Linked DNA regions of Homo sapiens. The protein of the gene in region 1 interacts with the protein of each later gene in a pairwise test. Each region holds a gene or a part of one and is shown on either strand. Other genes may lie near its edges.

Evidence for each region. The genes of interacting proteins can lie anywhere in the genome.
Region 2: the proteins of ANXA8 (region 1) and RNF11 interact in binary tests that used the Homo sapiens proteins (3 or more experiments, as listed by UniProt).

What each region holds. Positions count from the first base shown.
Region 1 is NC_000010.11:47,470,805-47,474,115, forward strand, and holds part of ANXA8 (annexin A8), read right to left. Parts: intron 3,262-3,311; coding exon 3,166-3,261; intron 2,217-3,165; coding exon of another isoform or gene 2,158-2,216; exon of another isoform or gene 1,395-2,157; intron 1,388-1,394; coding exon 1,329-1,387; intron 581-1,328; coding exon 458-580; intron 1-457. UniProt on the Homo sapiens protein: This protein is an anticoagulant protein that acts as an indirect inhibitor of the thromboplastin-specific complex, which is involved in the blood coagulation cascade.
Region 2 is NC_000001.11:51,267,273-51,270,609, reverse strand, and holds part of RNF11 (RING finger protein 11), read right to left. Parts: intron 655-3,337; coding exon 485-654; intron 1-484. UniProt on the Homo sapiens protein: Essential component of a ubiquitin-editing protein complex, comprising also TNFAIP3, ITCH and TAX1BP1, that ensures the transient nature of inflammatory signaling pathways. Promotes the association of TNFAIP3 to RIPK1 after TNF stimulation.

The DNA of each region.
Region 1 (3,311 bases):
TTTGCTAATTGGAATCTGGTTAGATAGTCTATTGGCGCTCATCTGACTTATCTCCTTAGAAGTTGGCCGCCAGGACTACTTAAATCTGGATTTGAGCGGTGGGCCCGATTCCTACCGGACTAGTTCATCTCATTGACTTTTCAGAGGTGGCTTCTTCTGCAAGGATTTGGTGTCTTTTCCAAGGAGCAACCATAACTTAAATGTGAAACCAACTTTCTGAGTGGGACACAGGGGAGCCTCTGTGCCCTGGTCTCTGCATCTCCCCTCTGCCCCCCATTCCCCTTGGGATCCAGCCACACTGACCTCTGCTGTTCCCTGCACACACCACATGGTCATGAATGCAAGCACATGGTGCCCACTGGGAAGGGAGGGGCTCACGTAGTGTTGGCCACAGCCTCCAGGTTTCCCTGAATGTCTGGGTTTCAGGCTGGCCTCAGCATTGGGAATGCCTGCTTACCATGATCATGCTGCTGAGGGTCTTGCCGTACATCTTCTTGAAGTGACATTTGATAAGATTTAAGTCAATCTCGCTCCTTGAAACGATGTTTCTTATCAGGGTCCCATCACGCGTCCCTGCTCCCTGGGCAAGACAGCAGCCATCAACAATCCTGCCTCACCTTTCCTGTCCATCTCTGAGTGATGGACGGATCTGTGTGGTTGGGTTCTGGGGCTTTTAGAGGGAGGGAGATGTGGGAAGGAGCCTGTGCTTCAGCCAGGGAAGCATTAGGAGGGAAGCTTTGGTGGCTTAGGGTGTCCACTCCCTTAATTCCTTCTCACCCACTGCCCAGAACTCTTCCTTTATGATGCCAAGTGCTCCAAACTGCAGTATGTTTGGTTTGCCACATCAGATTCTAGACACAAAATACTCACTGCTCCAGGAACAAGACTTCCTACTAGAGCAATGGCAGCAATCAGCTCAGCCAGGAATTTCACAGGCAGGGCCTTCCTGCTCACCTTCATCCCTGACCAGTCTCATGTCAGCTGGGGCCACATGGCCAAGGGAATCGCATGCCCTCTCTCATTTCCTGGGCAGAAGTGGCCAGAGGGCTTGGGTTTCGGGTGTGGAACTAACTTCAGGGGATATCAGCAACCATCAATCAGAGAAAACGGGCAATGGTTTTAGTTTCAGGGAATTATTCACCTCTGGAGATGCAGCGTCCCTTTCCCAGACTCAATTTCACCTCCGAGAACTAAAACCTTTCTGATCCACGACAGGTTTGGGTAAGATAACTCCCCCGTGTGGAGGATCGTGGTGGCTTTGAGCTCCTTGGCTTTGCACTTGGTGCTATGTAGGGTGAGCGTCAGGAAGAAGAAGACAGGACAGTTACCTTCATGGCATAGTAGAGTCTCTCTGCAAAGTAGCTGTGGAGGTTTTGGGTGCATTTCACTGGCAAACAAGAAAGCTGTGTTAATGTCTGGAGCTGGTAGGTGGCACTGCCTACAACTTTATGTCTTGCCTTAGGTCTTAAGAGTCAGTGTTGTGCAAGGCTTGGCATATTTCTTTGTTCCGTGCCTTTCCCAATGTGAGAGGCTTTGTGTCAGGTGGCGTGGGACAGGGAAGGTAGCCCGGGGCACTGGGCACAGCTCCAAAGGCCCAAGCAGGCAGGCAAAAGGGTAAGATGTGAAATGCACCAGACTGTGGGGCTCGTCTGAAGACACCAGCTCAAGCCCATCCAAGGGCAGCTCAGACTCAGGACAGGCCCTGGGCTCTCAACCCAGAGACACCTCCACCAAAAATCCAGCCTCTCAGCTCCACAGAAGCACCATGGGATGGTGGCTGCTGGCCTCAGAGTGCCCTCTCTCTCACACTTATCAGCAGGAACCCTGCATTTTGAATTCCCATGTGACAAGTGGAGTTTGGCCCCACAGGACTAAGGCACCTGGGGGCGTCTGGTCCAGAGACTGGGCCCATGCTTGCTCCCATGGGTACTGCTCAGAGACTTGGCATCTGGGTGGGGAAGGTTGGCATTTTCACTTAGGGCTGCAGAAGGAGCATGGGCTTTGAGTGAGGTAGGCATGTGTTCACTTCCTGCCTTGATGGTGCAGTATGGCTTCATTACTCAACCTCCCTGACTCATCTGGGAAGTGAGACTGATGCGAGGCTTCAAGGTGAAGTGAATAGGAAGGCCCAGCATGACGGAGCACTGCATGGCTTCACTATTCCCTGCTGGCAGACTTCATTCTTGGTGGGTTCAGGCCAGATCCAGGGGTGGAAGCTGAGATTGGAGCAGGGGTGTGATTAGATGTCCTGACATAGACCGGATTGTATCACAGCATCCAAGGCCAGCTGGGGTGTCTCAGATGGCCCTGTCCACCCAGAGAGGCTAGGAAACAGCAGGGAGCCTGCTGGCTGCTGGCTTTGCACGGAGGCAGCCTGGTGTGGAGGTGAGAGCTGCAGGCCAGGAGTCCGGACCTGGGCTCTGTGTGTAAGTGGGAGAAGAGACGTCCCTCTGCCCTGGGCCTCAGCTCTTTACTCTGCAGTGACTCTTCCCATTGTGATCTCAGCCCTGGAACCCATGAGAGCTCTGGAGTGGGTCCTCCTGAGTGGCCCTGACTTCCTGCTGTGGGGAAGATCCCCAGTGTTTCTCAGCATCAGACCATCCGTCACTCAGTTTGGACTCAAGCCACACATCACTGTTTCTTCAACTGGCAATGAAGGCAGGGGCCAGGCCCCTGGTTCATGTCCAGAAAGATGACTTTGTGCTGGCCAGGGCTTCACAACCACAGCCAGAGTGCTCCCTGCATGGCTGCCATGAGTACACACAGGGTTGGGGCTGGCATAATCACTGGCGTATGCATTTGTGTGCGCACACACACACACTGTCTGTCTCACACACACACACTCACATTCCACCCACAGTCATGCACACACACCCTCAGGCACACACACTCTCACGCACACACACACTCATGCAGACACACCCACACAGCACTGGGCACCACGTGGGCAGCACAGAGAACAATCTTTGGCAGCACACACTGGGACTCTAGAGGTGGAGCAGTCCCTGGGTGAGGGAGACAGGCAGAGTGTGAGTCGGGGGGACATCCCGTGAAGGTGACACAGGGATTCTTTCTCTTGTGGTCGCATCCCTAGGCCCTTTGTTCTTTGGTGCTGCCCCACGGTGAGCCCTGTGGCCTGAAAAACGTGCAAGTCTGAGCTCTTACCCACAGTGAGCATGGCCTCCTCCAGTGAGCCATGGGTCTCACTCTTGATGCTGTCCTCAATGCTCTTGTTGGCAATTTTCTCATACTCTTCAAACACTGTGGAGAGGGCTCTGCTCAGGGGATGGTCAGACCTCCTCGTGATGCCC
Region 2 (3,337 bases), on another chromosome or scaffold:
TGCTGTAAGTTAAAGCTCTCTTCATTAACACTAACTTTCTCTTATTTTACTTTATTTTACTTTTTGAGACAGAGTTTCAAGTGATTCTCCCACCTCAGCCTCCCAAGTGGTTGGGATTACAGGCGCGTGCCACCATGCCTGGCTAATTTTCGTATTTTCAGTAGAGATGAGGTTTCACCATGTTGGCCAGGTTGGTCTCGAACTCCTGGCCTCAAGTGATCCCCCGACCTCAGCCTCCCAAAGTGCTGGGATTACAGGCATAAGCCACTGTGCTCGGCCTGTGAAAATTCTTAATTACTACATAACATTCTCTTGCTAGTAGCCAGTAATAGAGCTATGAAAAAAAATTAAACATTCTCTTGCATTAAGCGAAGTGTTTCAATATATTAAATGTCTGACTTTCTAAAGTGCAGGAGAAAAGGCAAATTTTTCAAAAGCAATCTGAAAATAAAACTTTGAAATGTACAAATTAATTAAAACTTACTCCCGGATCTTTTTTTCTGATCCATCTCTTCCAGGGTCATAAACTCCTTTAGGCAGATGTTGTATAAGACCTATTCTTTGAGCTATCCTAATTTGTTCCTCTTCAGTCAGCTGAGTTGCTAGCCGAGTCTGGCTAGGTGTTGGGTGGTAGACTGGAACTGGAACTTGTTCCTAAAATATTAAAATATAGAGGAAAAAGATTATTTTTTAAAAACCTTTCGAGGGCTTATTTTTTGGTCAGAGATAGAAGGGAAAGGGAGCCCTGGGAGGGGTAGGAAGCTGGGCTAGTGTTTGGCTGTATGACTGTGTTTCACCCTGCCTTAACTTCAGCTACTAGAATAAAACATACACACACCAAAACATTCTCATTCTGCCTAAAGGATATAAACACAGACTTCACTGAACTGGCATGGAATGTTAAATGAACTATTTCCACATGATAAGAGACCAGCCTGGACAACATAGCAAGACCTCATCTCTAAAAATAATTTTTAAAACTTTTTAAATGGACTGGACTATGGCAAAAATAAATCTAAAAGTTATCTAAGACTAACTTTCCCATTTCATAGGACCAAGCTTGCCTACAGTCACTAATTGACAATACTGAAATTAGAATTCTGCTGCTCCTAATCCAACTGATTTTTTACACAACAAAACAATTCAAAGGAATCGTGTGTATAACCCCCACCTTTTTTTGAGATAGGGTCTCCCTCTGTTGCCCAGGCTTAAGTGCAGTGGCACAAACACAACTTACTGTAAACTCAACCCCCTGGGCTCAAGCAATCCTCCAACCTCAGCCTCCTGAGTAGTGGGGCCACAGGGTTGAGCCATGGTGCCTGGCCTATAATAATATTTAAAACTGAGCAACTCTGATGGAATGAAGCTGGGATGGAGTGTGGCCTAGAAGGGATGAGGCTCCCCATCCCCAAGCCCTCACCTTGGTTACCTTTGCAGAATCCTCAGAATCAACAGAGCAGTCTGAAAAACACTACTATCTCAGAAGATGAGATTTTCAGTCTGAAGAATTAAATTATAAGATTTCAGTCTCAGCTCGGCTACTTACTGTGATTGCTTGGACCAAGTCTCTTAATGTCTTTGAATAAAGCAGATAACAGTACCCACTTTAAAGAGTTGATATAATCATGAGATAACTAAGAGCTTTGTAAATGCCAATATTTGTAAATTATTCTAACATCTCCCCAACGTCATGATTCTCCCCATCATGATTCTCTGCTTTGCAGACTTTAAGCTAAGTGCTACTGTCCTTGGCTTTGGTCCTGGCTTTCTGGCTTCTCTTTGAATACTACAAACTCTTGGACTCTGTTGTGATCTCTGCCAGCTCTGAGTTCTTCAACCCTTGAATTACCATTTCCAGTCTAAATTACCTTCCTGAATCTTAGCCTCAGTCCTAGTTGACCAGTTTTGATGAGCTGTCATCCACACGCAAACTGGGAACAAATTGGTTTAAGACTAAGATAATATAAAGGGTCTCTTAAATCCTTGAACCTAACAAACAAAAATAACTAAATTGTTTTAGAGAAAATAAACTCCAACTATGGGTTTTTCAGAGGCTAGATTTCTTCAGTCTTGTGGTTCACATACGTGTAGAGAACACAGAAAGCAGAACAGAAAAGGAAAGTTCTACTTTACGGGGAAACATTAATAAACATTAAAGAAGAAAATAAAAACTATATTTTAATTCACGTTATGAGTGTATTTTCTCCTTTGGTATTTTTTTGTTAAAACAAAGGAACCCTCTCTATATCTTTTAGATATTTAAAATGATTGAACAATCTAATTTCAGTTTACATGGTTCAGAAAACCATAGAGGAAAGGAAATGACTAAGACCTCCTGATATTTTAAAGATGAATGTGGCCTCACCCTTCTTACCACACATGCCTAATTTTAAATTTTAATTCCCATGATACTTGTTTTAAAATGGCTTGATATCTGAGTTATCAATTGTTTCATAACTAGACAGCCACTGATTTTCTAGGCAGCAAAATGGAATCCTGATTCAATTGTTGGCTAACAGACACTGAGTGAGTAGAAGATTAGACAGGGGTATAAAAACAACAATTTTAAAAGATGTGATGGCTGGGCATGGTAGCTCATGCGTGTAATCCCAGAACTTTGAAAGGCCGAGGCAGGCGTATCACCTGAGGTCAGGAGTTCGAGACCAGCCTGGCCAACATGGTAAAACACCATCTCTACTAAAAATACTAAAATTAGCTGGGCGTGGTGGTGCACGCCTGTAATCCCAGCTACTCAGTAAGCTGAGGCAAGAGAACTGCTTTAACCCGGGAGGCAGAGGTTGCAGTGAGCCAAGATCTTGCCACTGTACTCTAGCCTGGGCAACAGAGAGAGACTCCATCTTAACAACAAAAAAAGATATGGATTTGGGGGTGGTTCCCACCATTCCCTATCTGCGAACACTATATGGTTTATGTTCAACACCTGCTTCCCCTCTGAGAATCAGGAATTTTGTCATATGCTAGGCAGTGGGTGCCTAATCAGTACCTGGGGCACTGAGTCTCCAAATGAGCTTCTCTGGCAGAAAACCTTTCATATATGTTGAAGGAATTAAGCATGTCCTGTGTGACTCCACTAGGAGATAACTCTTGGAAGCTTGTGCTTAGTTCCCTTTAGACCAAAGCACCTTTCCCCTTAGCTGATTTTGCTTTGATTCTTTGCTGTAACAAATCATAGATGTGAGTAAGATTATATACTAAGTCCTAAGAGCCCTCCTATTGAATCACCAAACCTGGGGACTGTTTTGAGGACCTCCAACGCCAGTGCTAGGTTGTGCTCCCACTTTATATTTGCAAAGCTACTGTGTTTCGTCCCCAGCTG